Linked DNA regions of Homo sapiens: region 1 is linked to region 2. Evidence: fine-mapped expression QTL. A gene starts in region 2. The other region holds a variant in brackets. All regions are shown on one strand. Distances are from middle to middle.

Region 1 (15,512 bases), 46 kb before region 2:
TTATTCTACCTGAGAATGCTGTAATGGACTGTGTCAGTTGGCCTCCAGCCAGGAGGTGGTGCTTGCAAAAGAGTGTCAGCTGTGGTAGTAGTGGTGGGATTTGTGCTTGCCTTATGTAACTCAGGGGAGGTATTCTAGAATCTCAGGCAATGGGTGGGTCCATAGAGCTCCCAAAAGTTTCTGTCCCTTGTGTTAAGCTACCAGGGCAAGTGGTGGAGCAAAGCCAGGTGGGGGCTGGGTCAGGCAGGTCCATGCTCTGGCTCTCCACATGCAGGGCAAATAACCCCAGTAGGAGCTGGGGGCCAGTTCTCCGGCTGCTCCGGTAATATTCCAGGAAGCAGTGCAGCTGCCTGTGTTGCACAGAAGAGTTTCACAGGGAGTGGGGAATAGCAGGCAACAGTAAGCCTACCCAGCTCCCACACGCTTAGAAAGGCAGGTGGCAGGTCGCAGGCCAGGCGCGGTGCTCATGCCTGTAATCTCAACACTTTGGGAGGCCGAGGCAGGCAGATCACGAGGTCAGGAGATTGAGACCATCCTGGCCAACATGGTGAAACCCCATCTCTACAAAAAATACAAAACTTAGCCGGGCATGATGGCACATGCCTGTAATCCCAGGTACCTGGGAGGCTAAAGCAGGAGAATTGCTTGATCCCAGGAGGCGGAGGTTATAGTAAGCCAAGATCACTCCACTGCACTCCATCCTGGGAGAAAGAGTGAGACCCCGTCTCAAAAAAAAAAAAAAGAAAAAAGAAAAGAAAAAAGAAAGGCAGGTCTCTCATACTTGCAGTGTTACACTAGCATCAGCTAGCTAAGTTCCAGGCAATCTGCACTTAAAACTCAAAACTGCCCCAGCCCATAAGCCTTCCCTGTGGAGACAGCAACAGCTGCTTTCAGGACATGCTCCTCCCAGTCCCAGCTCCTGTACTTGTGGCTATAGCACACTTCCCACTTGCCCCCAGTTCTGGCCAAGGGAGTCTGTCCCCACTTGAAATTATATCATGAATTTCAGCTAGGAGCTTCTCTCAACGTGCAACCACCACTTGAGTTAGTTGGCAGACTTCTGGGAAGTCCCTTGTGAGGTAGGACCAAAAATCACTTCCCTTAGTCTGTGCTGAAGACTGGGAATGCACACAAGGCTCTTCCCACTGCTGCCCCTGCTTTTATATGCCACATCAATCCCTAAATCAATGCCAGCACTCAGTAGGGTTAAGGCCTTCCCCCATGGACTGGATTAACTGGTTCCCCAGTGGGAGTGTATTTCCTGGAGGCAGTTTATCCCCCTTCAGATTCTGCAGACTTAGTTTTTCACCTGACTCATGGTGTAGGCTGCAGCCCACCACTTCTTTCAAAGGGCCTGTGGTTTCTTTCAGTTTTCCTGTTTAGTTCCTGTGTTGCTTCTTGGAGAAAAATTCACAGTGTGAAACACTACACACTATTGTGTCTTTCCAAGGAGGAGAAGCATGCTGACAATGTCTCCAATCTACCATCCAAGAAGAGACCAAGAGTCTTTTTAGGAATATGAAACTATCCAGCACCAAACAAGGAAAAAATCTATAATGCCCAGCATTCAATCAAGGATTACCATACATCAGGATCTCAAATCTAATAAAACACAATTTAAAGAAAGAAAATAAAAGATCACCAGTCATGAAGGAAGCAAAACACCACCCTTAATGAAGAGAAAAGTCAGTCAATTGAAAACCACCTAGATGTTAGAATTAGCAGACAAGGACATTAAAACACTTATTGTAACTGTTTTTCAAATGATCAAAAGTTAAGTAAAGACATGAAAGATATAGAGGAGACCTAAATCAAATTCTAGTGATGAAAATTTTAGAAATGAGATGAAAAATTCATTGGATGAAATTAGAAGCAAATTAGATGTTTCACAATAATGTGATTATACTTAACACCATTGTACTGCACACATAAAAATGGATAAAATGGCAAATTTTATGTAGATTCTTTTACCACTATATATACAATATATATATTTTTGAGACAAGATCTCACTCTGTCACCCAGGCTGGAGTATAGTGGCACAATCATGGCTCACTGCAACCTCAACCTCCCAAGCTCAAACAATCATCCCACCTCAACCTCCCATGTAGCTGGTACCACAGTCACATGTCACCATGCCCAGCTAATTAAAAAAAATTACAGGCACAGTGGCTCATGCCTGTAATCCCAGCACTTTGGGAGGCTGAGGTGTGTGGATCAACTGAGGGCAGGAGTTCAAGACCAACTTGGCCAACATTGTGAAACCCTGTCTCTACCAAAAATACAAAATTAGCCAGGCATGGTGGCAAGCGCCTGTAATACCAGCTATGCAGGAGGCTGAGGCAGAAGAATCACTTGAACCAGGGAGGCAGAGGTGGCAGTGAGCCGAGATTGTGCCATTGCACTCCAGCCTGGGCAACAGAACAAGACTCTGTCTCAAAAAAAAAAAAAAAAATTGTAGAGATGGGTCTCACTTTGTTGCCCAGGCTGGTCTCAAACTCCTGGGCAATCCTCCTGCCTCAACCTGCCAAAGTGGTGGGATTACAGGTGTGAGCCACCACGCCCAGCCTAAAAATATATTTAAGGGGTCAGGTGTGGTGGCTTAAGCCTGTAATCCCAGCACTTTGGGAGGCCAAGGCAGGTGGATCATGAGGTCAGGAGATCTAGACCATCCTGGCTAACATGGTGAAACCTTGTCTCCACTAAAAATACAAAAAATTAGCCGAGTGTGGTGGTGGGCACCTGTAGTCCCAGCTACTCGGGAGGCTGAGGCAGAAGAATGGCATGAACCCAGGAGGCAGAGCTTGTAGTGAGCTGAGATCACACCACTGCACTCCAGCCTGGGCGACACAGCGAGACTCCGTCTCAAAGAAAAAAAATATATATATATATAAGGAGTTTAAGAAATAGATTAGAAATTGCAGAAGAAAAGATTAGTGTATATGTGTATATGAAGACATAGCAATAGAAATTATCTAAAATTAAACAGAGAAAGAATAAACATTTAAAAAACCATGTATCACTGTGCTGTGGAAAACTTCAAGATGCCTAATATACATGTAATAGAAGTCACTGAAAAAGAAGAGAGAGGGTAACAGAAAAAAATGGGAAGAAATAATGGCCAATAATTTTCCAAATTTAATGAAAAGCATAAATCTACATATTCAAGAAGCCCAATGAACCCAAAGCACAAGAAATGTGAAGAAAACGACACTAAGGCACATCATAATTAAATTTTCCTAAACAAGTGATAGAACATTGTAAAGCAGAGAAAAACATCACAATATATTTAGGGAAACAAAGATAAGAACTATAGCAGATCTCGTATAAGAAAAAATGCAAGTGAGAAGACAGTGACACACAACATCTTTAATGTACTGACAAAAAAATTATTAAACTGTCAAACTAGAATTTTATACCAAGCAAAATATGTTTCAAGAACTAAGGTGAAATAAAGACTCTTTCACATATACAAAAGCTGAAAATATTTATCAGCAACAGACTTGCTCTATAAGAAATGTCAGGCTGGGCGTAGTGGCTCATGCCCGTAATCCCAGTGCTTTGGGAGGCCAAGGTGGGTGGATCACAAGGTCAGGCAATCAAGACTATCCTGGCCAACATAGTGAAACCCCATCTCTACTAAAAACACAAAAATTAGCTGGGCTTGGTGGTGCGCACCTGTAATCCCAGCTACTCAGGAGGCTTAGGCAGGAGAATCGCTTGAACACGGGAGTCGGAGATTGCAGTTAGCTGAGATCACGCCACTGCACTCCAGCCTGGCAACAGAGTGAGACTCCATCTCACCACAAAAAAAAAAAAAAAAAAAAAAAAAAAAAAAAAAAAGAAATATCAAAGGAAGTTCTTCAACCAAAGACATGAGGAAAAGGGAAGAAAAAGAAGAGATGGGTCAAACAGAAAACAAATGGCAAGATGACAGACTTGAATCTATCAATTATCACATTAAATATAACTTTGTCAAAACATCTCAATTAAAAGTCAGAGATTGTCAAACAGAAAAGAAACACAGGGCCGGGTGCGGCAGCTCACGCCTGTAATCCCAGCACTTTGGGAGGTCCAGGCTGGCGGATCACCTGAGGTCAGGAGTTCGAGGCCGGCCTGACCAAACCCCGTCTCTACTGAAAATACAAAATTAGCTGGGCATGGTGGCACATGCCTGTAATCCCAGCTACTTGGGAGGCTGAGGCAGGAGAATTACTTGAACCCAGGAGGTGGAGGTTGTGGTGAGCTGAGATCGCGCCATTGCACTCCAGCCTGGACAACAAGAGTGAAACTTCGTCTCAAAAAAAAAAAGAAAAGAAAAGAAAAGAAAAAAACAGAAGACCAAACTATATGCTGCATATAAGAAATGTACTCTCTCTCCATATATATTTTCTTTCTTCTTGATCAGTCTAGCCAGAGATTGACCAATTTCACTGATTTTCTCAAAGTAACTGTTTTTGGTGTTATTCATTTACACACACACACACACACACACACACACACACACACACACGTTAGATGTTAAAAGACAGAAAAAGATAATCTAGCTAACCTTAACTATAAGAAAGTTGTAGTGACTATATTACTACCAGACATGATAGATTTCACAGCCAACAATATTACATGGGATTTTTCAAGTTTATTTCATAATGATAAAAGGTCATAAACAAATCTAAACATTTATGCACCTAATAATAAAATACATTGAGCAAAAAACTGATAGATCTACAGGAGAGGCAGACAAATTATGGTTTGAGATTTAAATATTCCTCTCTTAATAGAAATGATCTGCTGATTACATTTAAACTGAGCGACTCTGCATTTTCTGGATTCTGGATGGTTGCCTTTCATGAGCCCAATCGAAGAAAGAAAATCCTTGGACCAGATGCTTCACAGCTGAAGCCCGTAGGACCGCGGAAGAATACCTTGAAGATATTGTTTGCATCAAAATCACCCAAATTTATGTCTTCCTTATCCAGGTCCTGCCCACTGTGATAATGAATCGTTTTCTTGGAATCAAAGAGGATGATAAAGACCTCGCCACTTCCTTGATCTTCTCCTCCTCCTTTTGAACCCCAGCGCTGGCTCCATCATGACGATGTGGATGGTACTTCAAGGCCTGTTTCCAATAAGCTTTCTTGATCTTGTCCTCAGAGGCATTCTTGTCACTTCCAGAACCTTGTAGTAATTATCCCTCTTACTCTTCTTCAGTTCCAGCTGTGCATTTTTTAGGAGCTGTTTGTATTCTTTTGTTTTCTCCATCTGATATACTTTTTTCATAGCCTCGCACTGTTTCTTCATACTGTTCTGTGTCCAAGAAACACTGAGCTCTTCTCAAGTAGGCTTTTATGTAAGTGTCATGAGCTTCACTGCATTTGTGCAGCTGTCTATTGCATCATCTAGTTTCCCAAGCTCGGAATTAACCATATCCCGGTTACAGTAGAGTTTAGCAATTGCTTTTATGTTGTCGGGGTCTACCCCGGGGGTTCTGCGTACAGTTCATCAGCTAGTTTGTAATTTCCTTCCCTAAACGCTTTATTCCAGTCTTCTTTCTTTGCGTTAAGTGCTCTGGCATTTCTGCACGCAAGGCAGGCCTTCTCATGGTCAGGAACCACTCTGAGAGCCTGTACAAAAAACTGAACAACTGCCTACTCAGTACAATCTTCATAATAAAGGCAAGGTCCGCGTACATACAGAGCATCCACATTGGTGGAATCCGTTCATAAAATGTCACTGGCCACAGACTGTGCTTCTGGATAACGACCCAGCATTGCTAAACATTCTGCTTTGAGGGATATTGAAGTGATGGCAGACAGGGGCAAATTCTAGGGCATAGTCCATGCAGAAAACAACCTTCTGAAAAGCCCACTTCTCAAAACTTGTTTCTATGACTTTCTCCTATTCCTTGACTGCATTAGCATTTGTGAACTCCTGTTGTGAGTGAGCATTGTTATGATCCAGTTCTAGGGCTCTCTGAAAACTGCAATGTGCTGCCATGGCATTCCCTGGAGAGAGGTGGCACTTGCCCTCTCGTAGATGTCCCCAGAAGAAACCATCATCCAATTTCACTGTGAAAGTATCTCCATGGGCTTCGCAGAACCTTCCAAGTATCATCAATGTAGCTGCTCTATTACTATGATAGCTAGCATTTTTAGGGCACATATCTGTGGCTTTTGTTTAATAGTTATAAGCTTCGTTGTAATCTTCCTTGGCATAGTGTGCATTTCCTTGTTGCTTCAAAGACTGTGCTTCAGTATTTTAAATTACAAACTGGCAAAGCCACCCTCCTTTTATTGAGGCGATCCTGCCTTTTTGTTCTTCTCCATCACTGTCCTGGCAAGCCGTCTTTGCTTCCTCTTCATGGAGCAGCCCTGGCTTGGTTGCCGCACCACATTGCACGATGGGGCAACTGACAGTTTCTTAAAAAGGAAATTATATCCCTGCCATATGACGCAGCAATTTCACTCCTAGATATTTACTTAAAGGAAAACAAAGTATGTATCTATACACACAAACTTGTAGATGAATATTTATAGCAGCTTTATTTATAACAGCAGAAACCTAGGGAAAGAAGGCTTCAATGTTTATGTTCAGGTGAGTGGATAAACAATTTTTGGTATGCCCATATAACAGAATACAAATCAATGCAAAAAGTGAACTATTGACTCACACAAAACATGGAAGAATCTCAAAATTATGCTGAGCGAAAAAAAATATATTTTTTCTCAGAATGCACACTATATTCCATGTATGTAAAATTCTAGAACACCAACTAATCTACAGTGTTAGAAAACAGATCAGTGGTTGCTTGGGGACTCAGAGGTATGGGGAGCAGGGAGAAGAAGGGGGTATTACCAACGGACATGAGGAAACTTATGATGCATATTTTCATTATCTTGATTATTATGCTGGGTGTATACAAATGTCAAAGCTTTTCAAGGTTTATAGTTTAATTATGTGCATTTTATTGTATGTCAATTTGGCCTCAATAAAGCTGTTAATAAAAATTTTGTCAAGCTTATGTTCCCCAGTAAATGAAATTTACTTCAAGTCACCAACAAAAAAACGTACAAGGTCCATTTTTCCTCTGTTCTGTGTTTACAACTGACAGTTAATATGAAAGACAGAATATCCAAAAATTCTATCTGCTGAGGGCCACAAATTATCAAGTCTCTTGTCAAGGGTGGCCAGCCACTGGTTAGTGGCTCAAGACACAAAATGCAGAACCAACACATTCAACTGACCATGATCATTTCTCCAGGGGTAATCTCAGTTCAAGTGTGCACTTCTGCCAGTCCAGACACTTGCTTCTTTATTATTATCCAAATGCTTGCACACATCTCACAAACTGGCACTAGTTCACCGATGATGATTTGGCCACTTTGGGAGAATTCCATATGTTTCCAAAATTGTCCATCTTACAGTGTTCTTAGAGCAAATGAAGTTTCTCTTCATTAGGACAGTAAAGTCCTAATGTTGAATGTACTATCTTTTTTGATTGGAATAAAGAAGCTTCTAAATAAAATTCTGATTCTCTAATAGCTTTAATTACAAGGAAAGCACCAAAAATCCATAGCTTATTACAGTCTGTCTTTTGATCCTGTGGCAAAGGCCTACCTTGCCTCACGGCTACAGCAGCCACTGCCAAATTCATGGCCGTGTCTGCTGGCACAATTCCAGGGGCTTTCTGGGAGCTCGTGCTACACAATTTTGGCCCTTAACTGAAAATACTCATTTCCAGCAAGCTGGTTTACTCCTGTAAGATCATCTTACCTCTTTGCAAATTACTAGCCATTATTATAACACTTTATACCTTGCTACTTCCACTCTCAGGAAAAGAAGAAATGCAAATAACTTGGGGTTACCTAATTCGTAACACCTCCCTAAAGTTAGATGCCACTTGGGCTAATTGAAATTTGGGGGAAGAAGCCTAAATTGAATGATTTTACCCTGAAACAATGTCTTAAAAATCCTAATTTGGCTAGGTTTATCCTGAATTAGAAGAATTAAATTTGTCATTACCAGGTAGAAATTTAGCATTTATGACAGAAATTAAATTTGGTTATAGAAAATTTTTAAAAATCTCTATTTCATGCACAATTAAGTCATGGACTGATCCATTTACAGCCACTAAAAAAGCATCCACCCCTACTAAGAGGAGGATCCAGCCTCCTGGTCTATCTCATTTGGGCAATGATGGAATGAATCATATAAGCTCCCAGACAAGGGTCTCAAGATAGAATTTAAAATAATTCCACTACAAGGATAAAGGAGATTATAGAA[T/C]AGATTGGGACAGAAATAGGCATGCTAAGCCAGAATTCACACAGGAGTTCATTTGACTCTAAACCTATGCTCTTTTTTTTTTCTGATGAGATGGTTCAGAGTTTGCGTTTCAACTCACTAGCTTAGAGTCTGAACATTATTGCCTTTTATGTAAAAGAGGGATTATAGCGATCTTAAAGGGTGAGAGAGCCTTTGTAAAGGCCTGACACTAGCGTTTGACTCATTTTATTTAAAATTATAGCTATTTATGTAGCAGAATGTCAGGTGATGTTGTGGAGAAACTGAGGAACCAACCAAAAAAAAAAAAAAAAGGTTATATACCAAATGATCAGTTTTCTGGCCAGAGAGAATTTGTATTGAAATTGGCAAGAAAGAGGCAGCAGGATTTTTGAACTGCCTGTACATGATTAAGTGAAAGTCAGAGGGAGTCAGAAAAGAAATTATACTTGCTTTCACAGCTCCGTTCTACAGCATTCTTCCACCACAAAAAAGCTTGCAGGTGATTTGTTCAGACCAGTTCTAAACGCCTGCAGAGGTAACAGCCCCACCTTTTGGAGATTATTACTTCACCTAACTCTGATGGGAGACAAGCTAATAGGACTTCCCATTAAGAGTAGTTCTGGATACTAAATTTACTCATTTTCCTCTGTAGTCTGATTCCACTTCTTTTTATTTTCACCAATGTTCAGTGATCTTGCTTTGACTTATTGTTGCTGTTGACCTTGACTCATGGCTTCAGGTTATTCTATTCACCATCTACCTGTCCCTAGTTCTTCTTCGCCCCCTCCCTAAAAACTTCCAAAAAACCTTTCTGAGAGTATGTTTCTAAGTAACAGCCTTCCCTGTATGTTACAGCCTCTAAGATTATGAAGTCAACACCGACATGCTTCTTTTGAGACAGATTTCATCATCACAGCAGTGAAAGAAACACAAGATGCGTTTTAAGGGTGACTTTTTGAAAGATGAAGATGGCTAGGGAGAAGTCTGTTGGATGGAAGATGAGCCCATTTGGCAAAGGATTAAATGAAGCAGCAAGTTTGATAAATCTGTTCGAGGTTTAAGAATATTCAGACACCTTTTCTTCCCAAGAAAATCCCCACACATCTCTTTTGGAACAAAGGCTTCTCTACAATGGTTCCAAATGATTCAGACATAACTTCCTGCATCTGTCACCAAAGGGATTTCTTCACTTTTAGTAAGACCATTAGCTGGCTTGCCAAATTCTTCAGCATAACAAAATTATACGTCATTTCTCTCTTGGGTATGCTGAAATGGTGAAAATTGCCCAGAGAAAATAGAAACTCTGATAAATGATTTTCTTACTGTTTTCAAAAGACCCAAACCTTTCTCTTATTAAATTGAATCTTTCAGGATGAACACAATCAAGACCATGGGGAATATCTCTATATTCTTAGAACACTTTCCAGCTAAAGTTTACAGATGATATTTCTTCAGACACAGATTTAGAATTAAATTATTTTTCTGAAATAGAACTCTTCTCTCTGAGCTTATGCGGAATCAGCCAATTTGACTATGTGATTTACTTTGTCCTTTTTATATGAAGTCCAAGAATTAAAGATGAAAAAAAGAACAGGTAAATATTGCTGTAAAACAGACGTTCATGTCATAAACTTGATACTGAGAAATAAATCTCTCTCCTCATTAGTGAACTACTTGAGGTAGAGACTTCGTTGACAAAATGGCTGAAATGCAGGACCTCTAGTTTCCTCATAAATTATGTTTCCAAATGATTGGATAATATTGTCAACACAAATATGTGGTGTATATATTTCCAAATCAAGATGCTTTGTGGTTGTCCGTAAGATACAGATTGAGTTGCATGACACCACTGCTAGACAGGTATGTGAGAAAATATATTGAACACTGAAAAACAATATTTTCTTTTTTTTTTTTTGAGATGGAGTCTCACTCTGTCGCCCAGGCTGGAGTGCAGTGGCGTGATCTCGGCTCACCGCAACCTCAGCCTCCCGGGTTCAAGTAATTCTCCTTCCTCAGCCTCCTGAGTAGCTGGGGCTATAGGCGCATGCCACCACATTAGCTAATTTTTTATTTTTAGTAGAGACGGGGTTTCACCATGTTGGCCAGTCTGGTCTTGAACTCCTGACCTCAGGTGATTCACCAGCCTCGGCCTCCCAAAGTGCTGGGATTACAGGTGTGAGCCACCACACCTGGCCAAACATTTTACATTTGAATGTTCTTCCAATAGAAACACTTGACGACCTTTACTAGAATAACTCTTTATATACCAAAAGCATATCTGGGCTATGAAGACAAGTTCTTTGAATTATTCATTTCCTGAACACAATTGTATTAGTCTGCTTGTGGTACTATAATAAACTAGAGATTGGATGACTTAAATCAGAGACATTTACTTTACACAGTTTTGGAGGTTGGGAAATCCAAGATCAAGGTGCCAATAGATTCAGTGTCTGGTGAGGGTCTACTGCCTGGCTTGTAGTCAACTGCCTTCTCCCTGGGTCCTCACATGACAGAGAGTCAAAGTTCTTACTCTTCCACTTCTTAAAAAGCCATTAGGGCCGGGCATGGTGGCTCACGCCTATAATCCCAGCACTTTGGGAGGCCAAAGCGGGCGGATCATGAGGTCAGCAGATCGAGACCATCCTGGCTAACACAGTGAAACCCCATCTCTACTAAAAATACAAAAAATTAGGAGGGCGTGGCGGCAGGCGCCTATAGTCCCAGCTACTCGGGAGACTGAGGCAGGAGAATCGCTTGAACCCGGGAGGTGGAGGTTGCAGTGAGCTGAGATCGTGCTACTGCACTCCAGCCTGGATGACAGAATGAGACTCCGTCAAAAAAAAAAAAAGCCACTAATCGCGCTCTCATGACCTCGTCTAATCTTAATTACCTCCAAATCCTCACCAATAAATTCCATCATATTGGGAGTTAGAGCTTCAACATATGAATTGGGAGTAACGGGAGAGATAATGCAATTTAGTCCATAGCAATGATATGACAATATTTCATATCTCAACTGATATTTATACCCTTCTTTTCTAAAGTTCTATATCAGAAAAAAGAATTTCATGAAGAGGTCTAGAGATCGTTGACCTCAAATTCTGACCAGCTCTGCTGCTGGAACATCTGAGTTCTACCTTAGGGTGGACATTTGTTCTTTATGCCCAGGATATCCACTCTTCCTCATGTTGGTAACAATACCCCAATTTTGCTTTGGATGAACAACCGCATCCCCAGTTCATGTGCTTAGGAAAAGGTGACTCCTCTTTACTATGAGGTGGAGCCTACGCGAAAGAGCTCACCTCCACCCACCCAGGCCGCAGTCACTATGATTGTTTAAAGGATGGGATGAGCACATTGACCCAGTCTGAGCCAGAGAGAGAGAGTGTGGGAACCCCTAGAGTTATGAAGAAGCTGCAGGAGGCAATTCCCCCTCTGCAGAACTTGAAAGTAGAATAACGTAAATTTGAATAGCATTATGGACCACAGTGCAGCGCGTAGAAACGGACCCTAGTGGTATTCTCTAAGCACAGAATCCAGCAGTATCTAAAACTAGCTCTCTTCCTGGATGATTTCATTTCATCCAAAAGAGCATCAAATATTAAGTCACAGTTCAATTTTTAAATGGCTGCAATATTTAAAAAATCCTAATTGGCATTTAAGCTTCTCCACTATTTGAGAAGTAACATTTTATATCTTAATTAAATTATTATTAAAGACAAGTTTTTGGCTGGGCACGGTGGCTCACACCTGTAATCCCAGCACTTTGGGAGGCTGAGGTGGGCAGATCATGATGTCAGGAGATGGAGACCACCCTGGCTAACATGGCGAAACCTCATCTCTACTAAAAATACAAAAAATTAGCCAGGAGTGGTGGCACATACCTGTGGTCCCAGCTACTCAGGAGGCTGAGGCAGGAGAATCGCTTGAACCCAGGAGGCGGAGGTTGCAGTGAGCCGAGATGGCGCCACTGCACTCCAGTGTGGGAGAGAGAGTGAGACTCTGTCTCAAAAAAAAAAAAAAAATCCTGATTTCCATTTTTTTTTTTTTTTTTTGAGACAGAGTCTCGCTCTCTCGCCCAGGCTGGAGTGCAGTGGTGCGATCTCAGCTCACTGCAACCTCCGCCTCCTGGGTTCAAGTGATTCTCCTGCCTCAGCCACCCAAGTAGCTGACATTACAGGCATGATCCACCAGGTCCAGCTAACTTTGTATTTTTAATAGAGACGGGGTTTCATCATTTTGGTCAGGCTGGTCTCGAACTCCTGGCCTCAGGTGATCCACCCTCCTCGGCCTACCAAAGTTCTGGGATTACAGGCGTGAGCCACCCAGCCTGGCCTGAAGACAAGTTTTCAACAGGAACTTTCATTAATCTGAGAGAAAACAAAACAGCTTAAAGTTACAGAGAGGTACCTAAGTGTGCAATTTATAAGTTATATACATAACTATCAATTTTATAGTTAAATTGAAATGTATTAAATTCAAATATTTAATCTACATTTTCCTTAAAAAGAGCTAGAATGAAAGGTCTTGGATATAGAGAATAGGATCAATAATGAGCATAGATTTGGGGACACGGTTGCCTATGCTATGGCTTTTACAAGAGCACCATGAAAGTACAAATTCCAATTCTGACCAGCTGAGCTATTTTACTCAACTTTGCAGGCTTACAACAATCTCTCCTTATTGTATAGCTCCAAGGACTCTTCCCACGCAATAATTTATTTGAACAAACATTTATAGCTGGATGATGGTATCTACTCAGTCACCTGAAAAGGAATGGAGACTCAAGAGAGAATCTTCTGCCTGCAGTTCTTTAGAAACTATCCTGAGTAGCAAATCTCAATCCCGATCAACTGTTTGCTCTCTTTAATGTCTTAGGCATAGTTTCTTCAAATTGAACTCTGTGTAGAATCAATCTTATCCACAAAAAATAACTCTGTTGTTCCTCTAAGTTACAAATGCATACATTGGCTCTCTCCTCCTTTGAAAGTGTAGGACAGATTTCAGACTTCAGGTCTGGATTTCTCAATCTTTTACAAGGGGGAAAAAAACACAAAACACAACCATCTGACCACTGGACACTGTTTTATTTTTCCTTTCAGTCTCACGAAGTAGTCAAATTAATGTCATAATCATGTTGGTATTCACACATTTTTCCTGTGTTTTTTCCCATGTGTGGGATCTTGGTATAGAAACCAGCTTTTGAATTTTTTTTTTTCCAGCCAGTATCTAACATTCTGGCAGAATGAGAATGAATGAGTGACATTGTGACAGACAGAGTTTTAATTTTAAATGTTTTAGAACTTGAGTATATTTTAGTCTTTTCAACTTATATGTGTATATGTGCATGTGTAAAAGATATTATTCAGATCTTAGTTAAACATAAGTATTCTTCCTTCTGAATAGGAAGATGTTTTAGTTAGATATTTAGTTAGATATATATTGGTTGCATGTAACAGAAAAATGAACCTAAATTGGCCTAAACAAAAATGATATTTCTCCAAACATGGCTGGATCGAGGGCTCAAAAGCTGTCATCAAGCTGTCTTTTTACTCAGACTTCCCCTGTGCCGCTCTCTGTCTTTGGCTCTTCATGGAAGCAAAATAGGGCAGCTGCACTAGGCATTCCATTCCATGAGGCTTCTTGTTCAGCTGGGAAGCAGACCTTTTCCCAGAAATCAGCGAATGTCAGCATACCTGCTTGACTCAGATTGGGTGGCTGGACAATGTCTGAACCAATCAGAGAATGCAACGTAGAGATTGGTTCCACAAATTCCTGTTACCATAATGATGCACGGATGATAGGAAGCCAGAAAAACTACCTTCTTCTATGAAAAGTCCATTACAGGATGTAAGAGTTATCTTTCATTTTTTGACATACTTGTATTAAAATCTATGAGGGCAGTTGGAAAGCAGCTGCACTCATTATCTACTTATGGTCTGAAGATTCACCTTAGGATAAGCTATACTAAAATACTTTGAGACATATTTCAAATCTACAGAGACAATAAATTAAAAACTCCACTTAACAGGTCAGTTTATGGTGTAGGTATTGGTATATTTTGCAAATAATTCTCAGAATGTAATTATAACCAAAATTAGATTTGAGTAATACCCTACTTAACCCAGAAACTCAATTTGGAAACTTGAGTAGGAGGCATAGGGGAAATAACTTTTTCTGCTTTATTTTAGTTCTATTACTATACATGATGTTTGATAAGGACATGTTGACCTCTACTTGTCCCTTTTCTTAATAAACTTTGCCTTTCTTTTAGCTTAGTTCACCAGAAAGCAACATGTACTTATTATCTTAACTCTTCCCTGAAATGCCTTCGTGGAAGTTTAATATTATCCTCTCAGAATCCATCAAAGGTTAATGCAGGAAATGGCCATTCATAGACCTTTTTAAAAATTTTACCTTACTTTAAGCATGTGCAGAATGTGCAGGTTTGTTACATAGGTATACACGTGCCATAGTGGTTTGCTACACCTATCAACCTGTCATCTAGGTTTTAAGCCCTGCATGCATTAGGTATTTGTCCTAATGCTCTCCCTCCCCTCACCCCCAAACCCCCAACAGGCTCTGGTGTGTGTTTTTCCCTTTCTGTGCCCATGTGTTCTCATTTATCAACTCCCATTTATGAGTGAGAACATGCGGTGTTTGGTTTTCTGTTCCTGTGTTAGTGTACTGAGAATGATGGCTTCCAGCTTCATCCATGTCCTCGGAAAGGATATGATTTCATTCTTTTTTATGGCTGCATAGTATTCCATGGTGCATATGTGCCACATTTTCCTTATCCTTGTAGACCTTTTTGCACCAACCTAATATCTTCCATAAAACAAAATTTAAAGGTACTGCTTACTGCGCTATCAACTCCTTCTCTGCTCTGTATGAATCCCTACAAGGAATTCCTCCTGGAACAGAATTCCTACCTGGCACACAATGTTTGGAATACTGAGGGGTTTTGTTTGTTGTTTGTATGTTTCTTTTATAATATTTAACGGGACCTCTAGAACCCATTCTGTTTCCTTTTTGGTCTTGTCTACGAGGAAATTAAAATATATAGCTATATTGCTAAATTTATGTTAAATCTAAATCATATTTACATATAAATTACACTAATGATTCAACATCAGATTTTTTTTTTTTGAGACAGAGTCTGGCTCTGTTGCCCAGGCTAGAGTGTAGTGGAGTGATCTTGGCTCACTGCAACCTCCGCCTCCCCCATT
Region 2 (15,512 bases):
GCAAGAACTTGATTCCAAGAGACTCGCACCTAGCCATTCATGAGAGATCTGCCTCCATGACCCAAAAGCCTCCACCTCCAACACTGGGGATCAAATTTCTACATGAGACTCTGAGGGGACAAATATCCAAACTATATCACATACTTTAATCAGGACCAATCACTTGACCTTCACATCCTCTTGCTGGCATGCAGGGGTTGCAACAGTGGAGTCTGCTTTAGGGGAATGTCATTGCTGCAGCCCATAGTAGCCACTAAAATCCAACTCTACCCTCAGGGGACACTCTGCATGAACAAGTCAACATGCAGTTCTATGCTTCTGAATCTCTACTACATCCAGCAATGGGATAAGGAAGAGCTCTTCAAAGATGGGGAGGTCCAATATTCCTGCAAAATAACACACCTTATTCTGATCTTCCTTGAAGCAAATATTGACATGAGCCAAATGTCCCCTGTAGAATGCATGCAGCAATGTCATATTAATTTGAATTCAACAGAGAATTGGTATAAAGGAGCCTATCCTAGAATCTGTCTGCATTATTTATAAGAAGACTTTCATGATGAAATTGTTAATATAAAAATGTAAGAGTAATAAGGCTACTTAAGAGGTGGGGCTCTTTGCAAGTACAAGTGTAGCACCCAATATTTATACAAATTTCAAACTATTTATTTTATTTATGCAAGTCCATCTGCTCTTTACTAGAAATAATATTTGCTTGCCTAATTTTGCTGACAAGTGATAAAACAATTCTTTTCACAGGGTGGGAATCATATTTCACTTTTAGTACAAATTAAAGAGTTGTCACCATGGGAATTGAATATTGTAACTTGCTGTTTGGTTTTGTATTTGGATTAATACAAAATAATCTCTGTTTGATTACAAGCCCACATTTCCCTCCATTTTAGAAAGACAAAGGTGATGTCTGCTGAGTAGAAGCAGTATAGAATGATGCGCCCCCACCACCCCAAGCCAGATCTAGCCTAGGTCAAGAATATAAATACCACAACCAAGAGATGATACAATAGATTCCTTCAACTTGGTCCTAGGCAGCAACAATTTGAAAATGTTATTGGTGTAGAAAATATTAATTCCCATTCACAGGCTTTATTTAAACACATAATTATTGGAATTAATTAAAAAGATTATGTGTTTGTATTAAACCACATTTACTATGTTAATTTCATAACAATCATATACAATAAGTAGTCCCCATTCTATGGAGTAGGAAATTGAAACTAAAGAAATTAAAATATAGCCCAAGTAAAAGACAGATCTGGAATTCACGTGGAAGCTACTTGATTTTAAGGCTCATAATCTTAATTATTTAATGATTTCTGTTTCCTTTCAGCCCATGGTAGAATAGTACAGAATTTATAAACTTCTATACTTGAAAAAGATCTTAAGTGAATCATTTAGTTTACCCCTGCCCCCTTTCCAGACATTTCTTTACTAGTATTCCTGAAAGAAAGAACAACCAAGTCTCTACTGGATATTTCCAATGCTGATGCTTTTTATTTGGAGGGATAGGTCATTTCATTACTGGACTGCTACAGTGGTTAAACACATCTTTATGGTAAAAATCAGAAAAGAAGAGAATTCTGACTTCTTTCTTCTATAAAATTCACCAGTAAAGAAGAAGAAGAAAAAAGGCAGAAAAAGGGAAGCTCTAATGTTAGGGAAGCCAGAAGAATTGAATCCATAAACCCCAAACCACAACGGATGAGGACTAGAACACAATACATAGTGGTAAATGATTCAACAGGAAGTGTGCTTCACAGGGATGAGTTGGATGTAAGTGGGACAGGCAAGCAGTGAGGGGCAAGCTGATTTCCCTGGTAGACTGGAAAGACTAAGGAATTTGAGGTTAATACTCTGCAAGTGGAGATACTATTGAAATTGGCAGTAAAGCAGGAGACTACAAATAGTAGGATGGTTTGTTGGCTGTTGGCTTTGTTTGTTTGTTTGTTTGTTTGCTTTCAGAGATGGGGTCTCACTATGTTGCTCAGGCTGGATTTGAATTCCTGCATTCAAATGATCCTCTCGCCCGCCCCTGTCTTCCAAGTAGCTGCGACTACCAGGTGCGCACCATCACACCTGGCTTGTTTGTTTCCAGTTAGGAGAAGGAACAGTTAGAACAAAGGGTCCTAAATGCCACCCTTCAAAATCAAGCCCCTTTCAGGATACCTGAGGATTGTTCTCTGAAGAAGCTTAACCAGAAAGGCTCTGAACTGAGCGATATGAGGCTCAGAGGAGGACAAGGGTGAGCAACAATGACGAAAAAGAGAAGAGGTTAAACATTTGAGTCTACAGACATTAAAACCAAGTAAGCATCCAAAATAATAAATGAAAAAAAGATCTACATCAAATTTAATCATTGTGAAACTTCAGAACATCATGATAAAGATGCCAAATGGTTCTAGAGAGGAAAAAAAATGGATCATATCCAAAGGATTAGGAATAAGAATGACCTTGCATTTTTAAGAAACATTAAAAACTAAAAGACAGGGGAAAATAATATGTCTTAAGATTTTTAATAAAAATTATTTTCAACCTAAAAGGTTACATCTAGCCAAACTATCAATCAAGTAAGTATAAGGGTATCAAAAAGATATTTCAGGCACACACACAGTCTCCCATAAATGCTTTCTCAGGAAGCCACTAGAGGATATGTTTTTCTAAATGAGGAATTAAACCAAGAAAGAGGAAGAATAGGAGCCAGGCAACAGGAGAGAGGTAAAGGGAATTCCCAGAACGACAGCAGGGGAAGTGCCAGGACCACAGCTGTGTAGCAGGCCTAGAAGCCACCAGCCCAGGCTGGAGGAGGGGGGGGTCAAGGTTCTAAGAGTGTTTGTATGTGGGGATCATATCTCCAAAAAAGTACTAGAATACATAAATTATTTGACCTTTGGGAATATTGTATAGAAAGATTTATAGGCCTCTTACGCTGTTTGGGAAGACAGAGTATTCTCAATACTAGGCAAATGAAAAGAAAAAGAAATTATCAACTCCAGGAAAAACAGAAAGTTGCATATGAATAGAACTATAATCACAATGCTCTACCTGGTTTAACAGTAAACATTATTTCAATAAAGACAATATAGGATATGAATTAAACATTGAGATATAATTTTGTGGGGAAAATGAAGAGAGGAGAAAAAGGGGAGTGTAAACAATGAAAATCTTCATCTATCATTATGAGAAGACAATAAATAATGTCAAAAATTGGTGAGTTGTAAATAAAATCAAGGCATTTTATTTAAAAATGATAAAGTAAATCCCCCCCCCAAAAAATATCTACAACAGTTTTATGTTATTACCTCTAGAAAGCATCACAAGGTTGGAGGAAGGTGGAAGAACAAGGAGTTATTGTTTCTTGGGTTAAGCTTTTTAGCATCATTTGAATTTTCAAATTATTTTCCTGTGATATTTGCGTAAACAGTTAGATGTATTTTCAAAAAATAAGTGTATTCTTTACAAAAGTTCAAAGCCTTAGACGTGTAATTTGTGTTCTTTTAACGTTGATTTGACAATAAAACACTGAGCTCTATTAATTTGCTGTCTTTATTAACTTATCCCAGTTTTTTGGGCCCCTATCAGGCCACAGATAAATTCTTGGGAGTCACAGTTTTGCATGTTTGTATTATTTTCAATTATACTTGAAAATGCATATGCCTGTTTTGGATCTGGGTAGCCACTGTGTAAGTGTCATTTTGATACCTCCACTATCATGTGTGTATCTATTCAAGTTAGGGCCAATTAGCACTACTTTAATAATTGCAGGACAATGAGAAAGAATAGGGCTTTCATCTATTCAGGCTGCTATAACAAAATAACATAAACTGAGTGACTAATAAACAATGGAATTTTTTTTTTTTTGAGACAGAGTCTTGCTCTGTCGCCCAGGCTGGAGTGCAGTGGCACAATCTCGGCTCACTGCAACCTCTGTCTCCTGGGTTCAAATGATTCTCCTGCCCCAGCCTCCCCAGTAGCTGGGATTACAAGCATGCGCCACCACATCCAGCTAATTTCTGTATTTTAGTAGAGATGGAGTTTCACCATGATGGCCAGGCTGATCTTGAACTCCTGACCTCAAGTGATCCACCTGCCTTGGCCTCCCAACGTGCTGGTATTACAGCCGTGAGCCAGCGTGCCGGGCCAACAATGGAAATTTATTTCTCATAGTTCTGTAGGCTGGAAAGTCTAAGATCAAGGTGCAGGCAAATTCTGTGTCTGGTGACTTCCTCGTACAAAGCCTTCTTCTCACTGCACCCTCACATGGCAGAGGGGTAAGGGGTTTCTTTCAGACCTTTTTTATGAGAACACTAATCCCATTCATAAAAGCTCTACCCTCATAATCTAATCACTTCCCAAAGGCCCCACCTCCTCATACCATCACCTGGGGGTTTATGATTTCAACACATGAATTTTGGGGGGACACAAACATTCAGACCATAGCAAGCAGTAAATGATGCAGCCGTATCAAATGAGAGCCCCATGAAATCATAGCAGGCCATATGAATAAAAACTATGTAATAATTTGAATGAATCAAGTGTTGAGGAAATTCCCAAACCACATTGTAGAAGAGTACCAGAAACTCAAAAAACCCAGCAGTCAATAGAGTATTCATGTTGCAAGCAGCAATTTAAGTTCAGCAAAACAATATCTGTCACATAAAAGTAGTGTTATTAATTTGAGTCGCATTTATTGATTTTGTAGGCTTTAAAATGTATACATTTTAAAATTTATGTAACTACTGTAAGCATAAGGAATTTATCCTATTTTCATTTTAGTACATGTAGGTTCAAATAATAATATAATCCTTCAAATAATTTCCACATTATTTAAATTATTCTGTTAAGTGAGTCTATACATTATTTAAATTTGAAAAGCACTGACTTGTTTATATTTACTAAGAGATGTGATCGGGTCAGTTTGCTACAATCCAGGATGGAATGCCACCCAATTTGTGGCACTCACCAAGTATTCATTAATTTAGAAGAAAGTGCTTTTCTCTTTCATCAATTTTAATTCACTAACTTAATTATCAAATAATATAGTGAACAGCTTCATTGTCTTCAACACTGGAATTTCTTTATCCTGACTTCTGCTTGTTGGGTGCACTCATCTATATATAACTTATGCCTCCCCTAAACTCAGAGAATAAGTAGGACAAAACTGGGGGTGGGATGTTTTCATTTCCTTTTGTTGCCATAACATCTTATCACAAATTTAGCAGCTTAAAAATAACATAAGTTTGCTATTTTATATTTCTGGAGGTCGGAAATCCAAAACGAATTTCTTTGATCTAAGATCAATGTCGCAGGATTGCATCCCTCTGGAGGCTCTAGAGTATAATCTGTTTCCTTGCCTTTCCCAGCTTCTAGAAGCTTCCTGACCTATGCTGAGGTCATCAAATCTCCTTTTCTGCCTCCAATCCTACTGCCTTCCTCCCTCATTTATAAAGACCCTTATGAGGCTGAGTGCAATGGCTCACGCTTATAATCCCAGCACTTTGGGAGGCCGAGGTGGGCGGATCATGAGGTCAGGAGTTCGAGACCAGCCTAGCCAACACAGCGAAACCCCGTCTCTACTAAAAATACAAAAATTAGCTGGATGTGGTGGCAGGCGCCTGTAATCCCAGCTACTTGGGAGGCTGAGGGAGGAGAATCGCTTGAACCCGGGAGGTTGCAGTGAGCTGAGATTGCACCACTGCACTCCAGCCTGAGTGACAGAGCGAGACTCTGTCTCAATAAATAAATAAATAAATACCCTTATGATTACATTGAACCCACCCAGTAGTTCAAGATAACCTCCCTACCTCAGGATCCTTCCTCACATCTGCAAAGTCTCTTTTGTCATGTAAAGAAACATATTCACAGGTTCCAGGGAGTAGGACGTGGAGATCTTTTGGGTGGCATTATTCTGCCTCCCACAAGGGATGCCACTATGCCTAGCCTGTCCCCAGAGCAGAAACCGATGGAGGAATCTGCTTTGGAAGTATGGGAACACAAGCTCCAGAAAGAAAAATAAAAGGCAAATGGATGTAAATTAATAGACAGGCATTTTATGGTGAATCAGAAGGAATTTCTTTTTCTGAGGAGGATCAAGGAGCATGTTGAGGATTTACAAAATGTGGGAAAGCCACCAACTAAGGAAGAAAAAGCAGACTGCTTCCCTGAGGGTTTGTTTGAGATGGGAAGAGTTACCTGGGAAAGACTGTGCTCCAAGGTCACACCAATTACCACGTGCATGAAGATTATACTCAGTTCAGCTCCAAAATCACCATCTACATGTTTATTTCAAACTTTGCAAACAAACCAAACAATGACATCAGAATTAAAATGGTTCCACCACCTCCCTGTTCTTATGCCATTGTTTTTCTTTTTCCATGATTCCTGTAAGAAACCTGACACTAATTAAGCTAGTGCAAGAAGAAGAAGAAAAAGAAGATGAATCTTCCACCACACTGGAGATAACCCAAGAAGTAAGAAAAACTGATCTCTACCCAAAAAGGACAACAATGGTGAAAGACTGCATTTGCAACGGGGGTAATATACTCAGAGTTTAAATTTCCGAAAGGACAAACAAAACATGGAGAGTCTAATGAGATCTTCCAGCTGCTTCTCTCTGCTAAGGTATTTCCCCTGGCAACAGCTAGGGAAGCTTGGGTGTATTTTCCCCTTGCTGTGTCATATGATGTTCCTTTCCCTACCCCCACCTCCTCCAGACTGCTGCCTCCATCAGTGCCTGTGGCGTGTGTGTGTGTGTGTGTGTGTGCGCGCGCGTGCGTGCACGTGTGTATGTGTGTGTGTGTGTATTGGGTTTCTCTCTCCCTTGTAAGAACACAGCCAGCCCGCCCTCTCCTGCTGTTGCTGCAGCTCTGACTTGCTTTTTCCTGCCTCCTTCCTCTCCTCTCTCTTCTTGCTTAGCTTCTTGCCTTCTGGTAAGTATGACAAACACTCCCCCAAGCCCTGTGAGAAGGTATAGGGTGCGGTTTGTGGTGTTCGAAACTTGCAACTTTGAGATTGCCAGTGAACTGTTGGAGAACTTTTCATTGTTGTATTTATAAATAAAATGTGTTGCTTAGGGAGGGATGTGTCTGTGATAGTCATCTGGAATAGCCAACACAAGTGAAAAGTTCTCTCCCTGGGGAGGGGAAAATAAGGCAATAAAGTTTATATAAGATAAAAGTTAGAAATAATTTCTTTGCCACATAATATAAAATGGATGATTGAAAAGTAACAAAGTTCTCTGACTTTGTTTTTTTCCCTCTTGTTAACTTGTCTTGAGGCTACTTTTGGGAATTGAATTGTCCTGGGCTTTATAATGACTGTTCTGTTTTAAAGTAAATGTGGAACAGGAGTTTAAAGAATAGCCATGGAATTAAGAATTTAAAAAATCAATGATTGTGGCATCTCATGAAGAATAAATCAAATACAAACAGCCACTTGCATTTAGACTAACCGAAGTAAAACTCCTATGGACAGCTTATCTTAAATTAATTATTTTGAAGTTCATTTTACTTGAGATTTTATTTCATCCTAAGATAGTCTCCCCGACTTTAAAACCCATGTATGGATTTAAGCCACTAAATGTTTACTGTTTTCAATTTGACTGAAAAACGATTCTCTTGATTTTCAAGGATGAAGTGCTAAACGGCATGACTCATTTTAGAATAGCTTAAAATAACTTCTGGCTGGACAGCAGGTGCCGTGTGTCTTTCTCCGTGTTCAGGGGAGGCCTAAGTTATATATAGATGAGTGCAATCAACAAGTGAGGTCAGGAAAAGAAATCCCAGTGATGAAAATAATGAAACTGCTGCATTATTTGATAATCAAGTTGGTGAATTCAAACCAGTGAAAGAAAAAAAGTACTTCCTCTAAGTTATGAGTGTTTGGTGAGCATCACAAGTCAGTGGCAACATCTGTGTGTTGAATTTTCTGTTCTTGTTGGTGTCTGAGCATTCAATTGACATCTACTGCCCTGAGAACAGGAAAAGGAAGCTGTGCAGTTGTAGAACAGTATGCTTTTGTTTTCACTTTCATGTTACCACAACAGCAAAACCTGTGAATTATGAGGATCTTGCCACATTTTTATGCTGCTATTTAGCAGCATCACTGTTAAATATTATTTACAAATAAAATGCACCATAACTTAAAGGCCTAAACCAAATCTATTGCAACTCTAGAAGTGGTAATAGTCAGAAACCCTGGAATCTCTGACTCAGTACCATCTCTCACCCTTTCCTAAGGGCCCTTATTATTGCTGAATTATTTCTCGAGTTGGTCTCCTCCTTGTTTATGAAACATTGCTACTTCTTAAAAATCATTAAGTTTTTCTAGAGCTTCCTGACTTAGAAGAGAAAGTTGTAATCTGTTTTTCTCTTTTAAAAAATTGGTTTATATATTGGAATAAAAGAGTATTATAGAAATTTAAGGAATTGTTGTTATAAGTATCATCATGCTTTTGTTTTGTTTAGTTTTTGAGACGAAGTCTTGCTCTGTCACCCAGGCTGGAGTGCAGTGGCACGATCTTGGCTCACTACAGCCTCCGCCTCCCAAGTTCAAGCAATTCTCATACCTCAGCCTCCCAAGTAGCTGGGACTACCGGTGCCCGCCACCACACCTGGCTAATTTTTGTATTTTTAGTAGAGACAGGGTTTCACCATGTTGGCCAGGCTGGTCTCCTGGCCTCAAGGATCCACCCGCCTCGGCTTCCTAAAGTGCTGGGATTACAGACATGAGCCACAGCACCTGGCCCGTGTTTCCATACTACTTTGTCTATTTATTTATACCTTCCCTCATTCCCTGTCTTAATCTAAAAATGATGCCAGTTTAAGCCTCAAAAAAAGCATTCGTGTTGCTTATCTGAAAAAGAAAATGCCAGAAAAGTGAGAAATGTCTCCTCTATCCAGTGTAATAATGCATTTACATCAAAATATTCACACTAAGCAAAATATTGATTTATGGATCAAATAGAGCTTAGAGATGTTATTCTTATGAGTTATTTAAATAAATTCAATGGCTCTTCTATTAAATATTTTAACTTTGAAAGAAAACTAATACCACTTTATATTTAAACATTTTAAATATATACAGTCATGTACCCCCAGTGATTGTTAATCTACATAGAATTATACAGGAAAATGGTAACACAAACTGACTAGTGTAAGCAAAATGACAAATATGGCCACAAAGAAAAATAGCATGAATTACTTTCTTAATGTGAATAATAAGGAATGCTACTGAAAACTGAAGATCAAAACCAAAAATATGCCAGCAGTGTGACTTGATTTGGAAAAACAACTTTCCACTGTCCCTACTTTAATAATTGTAATGCAGCAGGACAAGCCGCAGACAAAACCCTTCAGACACCCAGTTAAAGAAGGAAGCAGTTTAATCGGCCGGGAGCGTCAGCAAGACTCCTGTCTCAAGAGCCGAGCTCCCTGAGTGAGCATTTCTTGTCCCTTTTAAGGGCTCACAACTCTAAGTGCGTGCACGTGAGAGGGTTGTGATTGATTGAGCAAGCAGGGGGTACGTGACTGGGGGCTGCATGCACCGGTAATTAGATCGAAACAAAACAGGATAGGGATTTTCACAGTGCTTTTCTATACAATGTCTGTAATCTATAGATAACATAACCTATTAGGTCAGGGGTCAATTTTTAACTACCAGGCTCAGGGCGCGGCACCAGGCTGTCTGCCTGTGGATTTCATGTCTGCGTTTTAGTTTTTACTTCTTCTTTGGAGGCAGAAATTGGGCATAAGACGATATGAGGGGTGGTCTCCTCCCTTAGTAACATCAATGGTTTGTGAAAGGACATTGCCTTTCTCTACGTTAGAGACTATAATTAGTTGGTATTCACTTGGGGGATATCCTTACCATTGAAATGTAGCATTGATATGTAGCAAGTAGGTTAGCTACATAAAGCCTAACTGTGCTTACCACTAGATACTACTCCCAAGATGGAGGCTAATCACTCTGAACAGCTCTCAGCGGAACGACAGTCAACACCTCCAGGTGACAGTTCATCATTACCCAGTCACAATGGCCTGGAGAAGGAAGATGGCCAGGATTCTCCAACCCCAGTCCAACCACCAGAGAAAGAGGCAAGTGTGCACCCCGATATCTCTGAAGAGCTGAATCGACAGCTGGAAGACATCATTAACACTTATGGGTCTGCTGCCAGCACAGCAGGGAAAGAGGGCTCTGCCAGGGCCAGTGAGCAGCCTGAGAATGCAGAATCACCTGACAACGAGGATGGGGACTGTGAGGAAACAACTGAAGAGGCTGGAAGAGAACCCGTTGCTTCTGGAGAGCCACCCACTGTCAAAGAGCCCGTCAGCAATAAGGAGCAAAAATTGGAAAAGAAAATCCTAAAAGGATTAGGCAAGTAGTTATGTTCAAATATGTGACTTTTCTGTATGGTATTCCTAAAAAAGGGGCACTTCTTCCAAACTTCACTAAAAGCCACATCCAATATTTGGATGACTGTAGTAGCCTTCTATATTTTCCCTTGTTGTATTTGTCCCCAGCCCTTACCCCTCAATGGAGCTCAGGTGAACTTTTCAGTGTGTTACCCATTGACCCTTTGTTCCGTGGCCTCCTACTGCTCTTAGGATGAAGACCAAAATCTTTAACATGTTCTCTAAGATCCTAATGGTCTAACTCCAACCAGTCCCAGTTTTATCTCAGATTACTCTACCCTACAACATCACCTTCCTGAACACTCTGCCTCTATTACCACCACCACCACTACTGCCTAATAGCTAGTCATTCTGATCTTGTCTTTCAGGCCTTTGAACATGCTATGCTCCATCGCCCACAAGGCCTGTGCACATCCTAGTTTCTTTACCTAGAAATCTGTACCTATCTTCAGGTGCCCAATGAGTGTTTATTAATGCCTAGTCTTTGTAAGGCACTGTGCTAGGTGCACAAAGATAAATAAATCATGGTCTTTTGGTCAAGGAGCTGTAAGTATAGAGAAAACAGAAGACATGTAAATTAATTATATAGGAGAAGTGCAAAAACGGGAAAAGGAAAATTTTTTAGGAGAGCATGGGAGATTGGTGACACCAACGATGGCTGGGAAAAAAGGGTGAGAACGTTAATTTTTAAAACTATGAGTGAAGCATGTTACTGTACATAGGAAAGTCCCTCTGCTTGTCTTTCCTGGTGGAAACACTCACTACGAATACTCCCTCCTATGTGATACTTTCCCTGACATGCCCAGGTAGAGTTAGCATCACCTTCCTTAGTTTTCTATTAAATTTTCTGCAGCAATCATTTGTTTATATACCCATCTCTCATGCTAGATGGAGAATCTATCAAGGGCAGAGACCACATATGATTTGTTTCTGGAAGACTATGTGGTAGAGTGAAAGATCATGAGCATTGGAGTCAGAACTGGGTTCAAACTCCAGTAACCAGACTATCTGTAAACCCAAATATATCACAAACTGGAGTAGAATATTTTTCTGCAGTGAGCAGGTATATACAAACCTACCCACAAAGGCCAAGGGAGCTGAAGGCCAAAAACAGAGGCTGACAAATCCACTTTCTCAGAAAGAAATATTTAATAGGGGCTTACAAACAGTAGTGCTGTCTTGGGCAGCAGTGAGACAGTGAATTCCTACACCCACTCTCCAGAAAGTGTCCTTTACATAGCAAGCTTTTAGGTAAAGTCATGTGCAGCTGGTCACATCTCCAACTTTCTTGCCAAAAGTCATGACCACTGGGAACGTTAGATAAGCATCTTTCTGAGGGATTGTCTATGTCACAGGCATTGTTTAAAGACCTTGCTGCAGAACAGCCGTCAACCTTTTTGGCACCAGGGAAGACAGTTTTTCCATGGACTGGGGAGGGATAGTTTCGGGATGATTCAAGTGCATTACATTTATTGTGCACCTTATTTCTATTATTATTACATTGTAAGATATAATGAAATGATTATACAACTCACCGTAATGTAGAATCAGTGGGAGCCTTGAGCTTGTTTTCCTGTAACTAGACGGTCCCATCTGGGGGTGACAGGAGACAGTGACAGATCATCAGGCATTAGATTCTCACAGGGAGCATGCAACCTACATCCCTTGCATGTGCAGTTCACAATAGGGTTCACGCTCCTATGAGAATCTAATGCCACCGTTGACCTGACAGGAGGTGGAGCTCAGGTGGTAATGTGAGTGATGGGGAGCAGCTGCAAATACAGATGAAGTTTTGCTCTGTCGCCTGCCACTCATCTCCTGCCGTGCAGCCCAGTTCCTAACAGGCCACGGACTGGTACCTCACCCTCCCAAAGTGCTGGGATTGCAGACGTGAGCCACTGCGCCCGGCCCCTAGTCTTCCTTTGAACGGTCCGGTCACTCTCCCAGATAGTCTGTTTCATCTGTTTTAGCTTGATTTCTAGTTTCTCTGAGAGAGTAATAAACTGCAGCTTTGATATTTTCTGAAGGAGATGGTATTTTCTGAAGGAGACTAAATTTTCTGAAGGAGATGATAAGAAGACCAGAGAAATTCAAGGGAAAGAGGAATAAGCAGAGACAAAGCTTGACAGGTAGATTCATAGAGAAGCTAGAACCTAGACCAGACCTTGACAGGGAGGAGAGTTTACAGAAGCAGATGGAAGGGGAGAGAAAAACCTTGAGGAAAATTATTAGTACTCTCTTCTGACCAAGGTAGGGAGTGGATGGATGAATATTTTACTGTTTTTTCTAATATTTTTATTTTTGTTATTGGTAATAGTGTATACACATCATCACTGTTGACCTAATAAGAACTCCAGATCCACTCTCCTACTGAGTGAGAGGCCAAAGTTCCCCTACAAATATGACAAGGCCACTGAAAGATAAGAAATAGAAAATGTAAGCCAAAGGGAACAAAATCTGACAAGAAAACACAGGCTAGGTGGTATTTTCGAAACTGATAGAGGCCTCTCGTGGGTAAAATCTCTCTCGTGGGTAAAGTCACTTTCCCCTTGGCATCTGAAATGAAAGAAATGAAAACAGATTTCCCATTATGCAGCCCACAATGACTGGTACCAGTCCGTGGCCTGAGGGTTGGAGATATCTGCTGCAGAACACCTTGGTATGGAGGAGTCAAACATTGGTCATCATGGCAGGTTTGCTTTACGATGGCATCACTCTTGCCATGCAAGGGGCTATTTTCCTACAGATATCGCTATGATGCTAAAACCCATTGCTACAATGCTTTCAAGAAGGCCTAAATAATACATTCAGGTAGCATACTTCACCCAACTAGGATAAAATTAAAAGAACTCAGATAATAACTTTTAAGTATCTTCAAGTTCCAAAGTGCAGGGTTGGAATCACTCTAGTGTTTTGGAACATGGAAAAACATAATAAAATTGCTCTGTGTTACAGAGCAATTTTTTCTTCTCTGACAAAACATCTCAAATGTGTCCCTTTGCAAAGTTAGTCATTATTCAAGTTTCCGTAAGACAATATACAAAATCTCATTCCAGAGGTAAGCAACTTCAAGTGTTCCTAACCAGAAAAGTTATTTTTCAATCACCCTAAAACTTTTACATAAGAATTGGGGTGTGTGTGTGTGTGTGTGTGTGTGTGTGTGTGTGTGTGTGTGTGTGTTGAGGGGAAAGATATGAAGAAAATAGGGATAAAGTTAAAATAACCAATTTGGGTTTCTACTCTCTTCCATGAGTTATTTCATAATCTGCATTAACCTTACAATTACCAAATAGTCAGGATGATGTTTTTAAAAATTCCAACTCCCTAATTCTGCCGCTATTTACGATACCAAATTCCAACTGACTGTGTTTGACCAAAATCAATGCTTGTGGATTAGAGTACCTAGGTGTGTCCACTCTAATTGAGTATGTGTGGGCTCATGACCTTTCTGTGCCTTCCCACTCATCATCATTAGCATATTATTTTAAACACTGTACTATTTAACAGCTACATTATGCATGAAAACAACATTTTTAGGCTAACCTCAACTTGTAACCACCATTTTAAACTTTCAGTTGTTTGCAAGTAGCTTTGGCAGCCTTCTTAGCTACTTTTCAGTTAAATGGTACTGTGCTATCGTCTAGACTAATGGTTTTCCAACTTAACTGTTTATTAGAATCAATTGCAAAATTTGTGAAAAATGCTCCTCCTGAGCCCCCACACACAGATATTTGGAGTTTGTAGGCCTGGAGTGAAGCATGATCTAGTTTCTCAGTTCTTTGAACATGCTATACGCCATCTCCCACAAGGCCTGTGCACATTCTAGTTTCTTTGCCTAGAAATTTCTACCTATCCTCACGTCCTCAATGAGTACTTATTTATTTATTTTTATTTATTTACTTTTTTTCTTTGAGACAGAGTCTCACTCTGTTGCCAGGCTGGAGTGCAGTGGCGCGATTTCGGCTCACTACAACCTCCAGCTCCCTAGTTCAAGCGATTCTCCTGCCTCAGCCTCTCGAGTAGCTGGGATTACAGGCATGTGCCACCATGCCCAGCTAATTTTTGTATTTTTAGTAGAGACGGGGTTTCATTGTGTTGGCCAGGATGGTCTCGATCTCCTGACCTCATGATCCACCCGCCTCGGCCTCCCAAAGTGCTGGGATTACAGCCGTGAGCCACCGCACCCGGCCCACAATGAGTATTTATTAATGCCTAGTCTTTATGATGCACTGTGCTAGGTGCGCAAAGATAAATAAGTCATGGCCTTTAGTCAAGGATCTCTAGGTAGAGAGGAAGAAGAAGACACATAAGCTAATTGTCATATAGTGTAAGTGCAAGAGCAGGAACAGGAAAATTTTTAGGCGAGCATGGGAGATGTTCACCCTGGGTAATTTTGACACAGATTGTGGAAGCAATGGTTCTGATTCTTCAGAAAGTGTTTTCTCTGCTCTTTTGGAGAAAATATAAACATCTGGCTGTGGTCTCCTTTTATAACCTATTTGGACCTCTTAGAGAATTTTAATAAGTCATTCAACCCATATCTGAAGATATATTCTTAGATTTTGCTTATGTACTTGATCAAAGATGTCTTTAATCATTGTATTTATTAGATGCTATTTGCTTTATTGGCACATTTGAGATGCTAAAATGTTTTGACTCTCTACTACAACATTTTCCAAAGTGTGTCTACTTTGGGATGCTTGAGATTTCACAAAGTTAAACAGTTTCTTTACTGCCAGAATTCTCTGACCTTTACTGTATACACAATGAAGATCTAAAATAGTGATGGGCATAGTTTCCATCATTTCCAAAACTTATTGACTGATTGGATCTATGAGAGACATTTTTTTTTTTTTTTTTTGAGACGGAGTTTCGCTCTCATTGCCCAGGCTGGAGTGCAATGGTGCGATCTCGGCTCACCACAACCTCCGCCCTCCGGGTTCAATCGATTCTCCTGCCTCAGCCTCCCAAGTAGCTGGGATTACAGGCATGTGCCACCACTCCCGGCTAATTTTGTATTTTTAGTAGAGACAGGATTTCTCCATGTTGGTCAGGCTGGTCTTGAACTCCCGACCTCAGGTGATC

What was found. PIP is the estimated chance that this variant, and not a neighbour inherited with it, causes the effect.
Region 1: its variant is fine-mapped to the expression of TXLNB in whole blood (INTERVAL, PIP above 0.99).

Annotation. Positions count from the first base shown.
Region 1 is chr6:139,328,922-139,344,433 of GRCh38, reverse strand. It overlaps the pseudogene LOC100129844. Among named protein-coding and RNA genes, the nearest start is that of CITED2, 38 kb to the left of the region's middle. The variant T/C (reference allele first, on the strand shown) is at 8,284.
Region 2 is chr6:139,283,353-139,298,864 of GRCh38, reverse strand. It overlaps TXLNB (taxilin beta), which reads left to right and starts at 6,867. Exons shown (of 10, transcript NM_153235.4): 1 at 6,867-6,944; 2 at 9,952-10,389. The coding sequence starts at 9,966. It overlaps LOC102723690 (a long non-coding RNA gene), which reads right to left. Exons shown (of 5, transcript NR_197427.1): 3 at 12,945-12,983; 4 at 11,963-12,021. RefSeq lists enhancers at 7,643-7,892, 8,093-8,152 and a silencer at 7,739-8,033.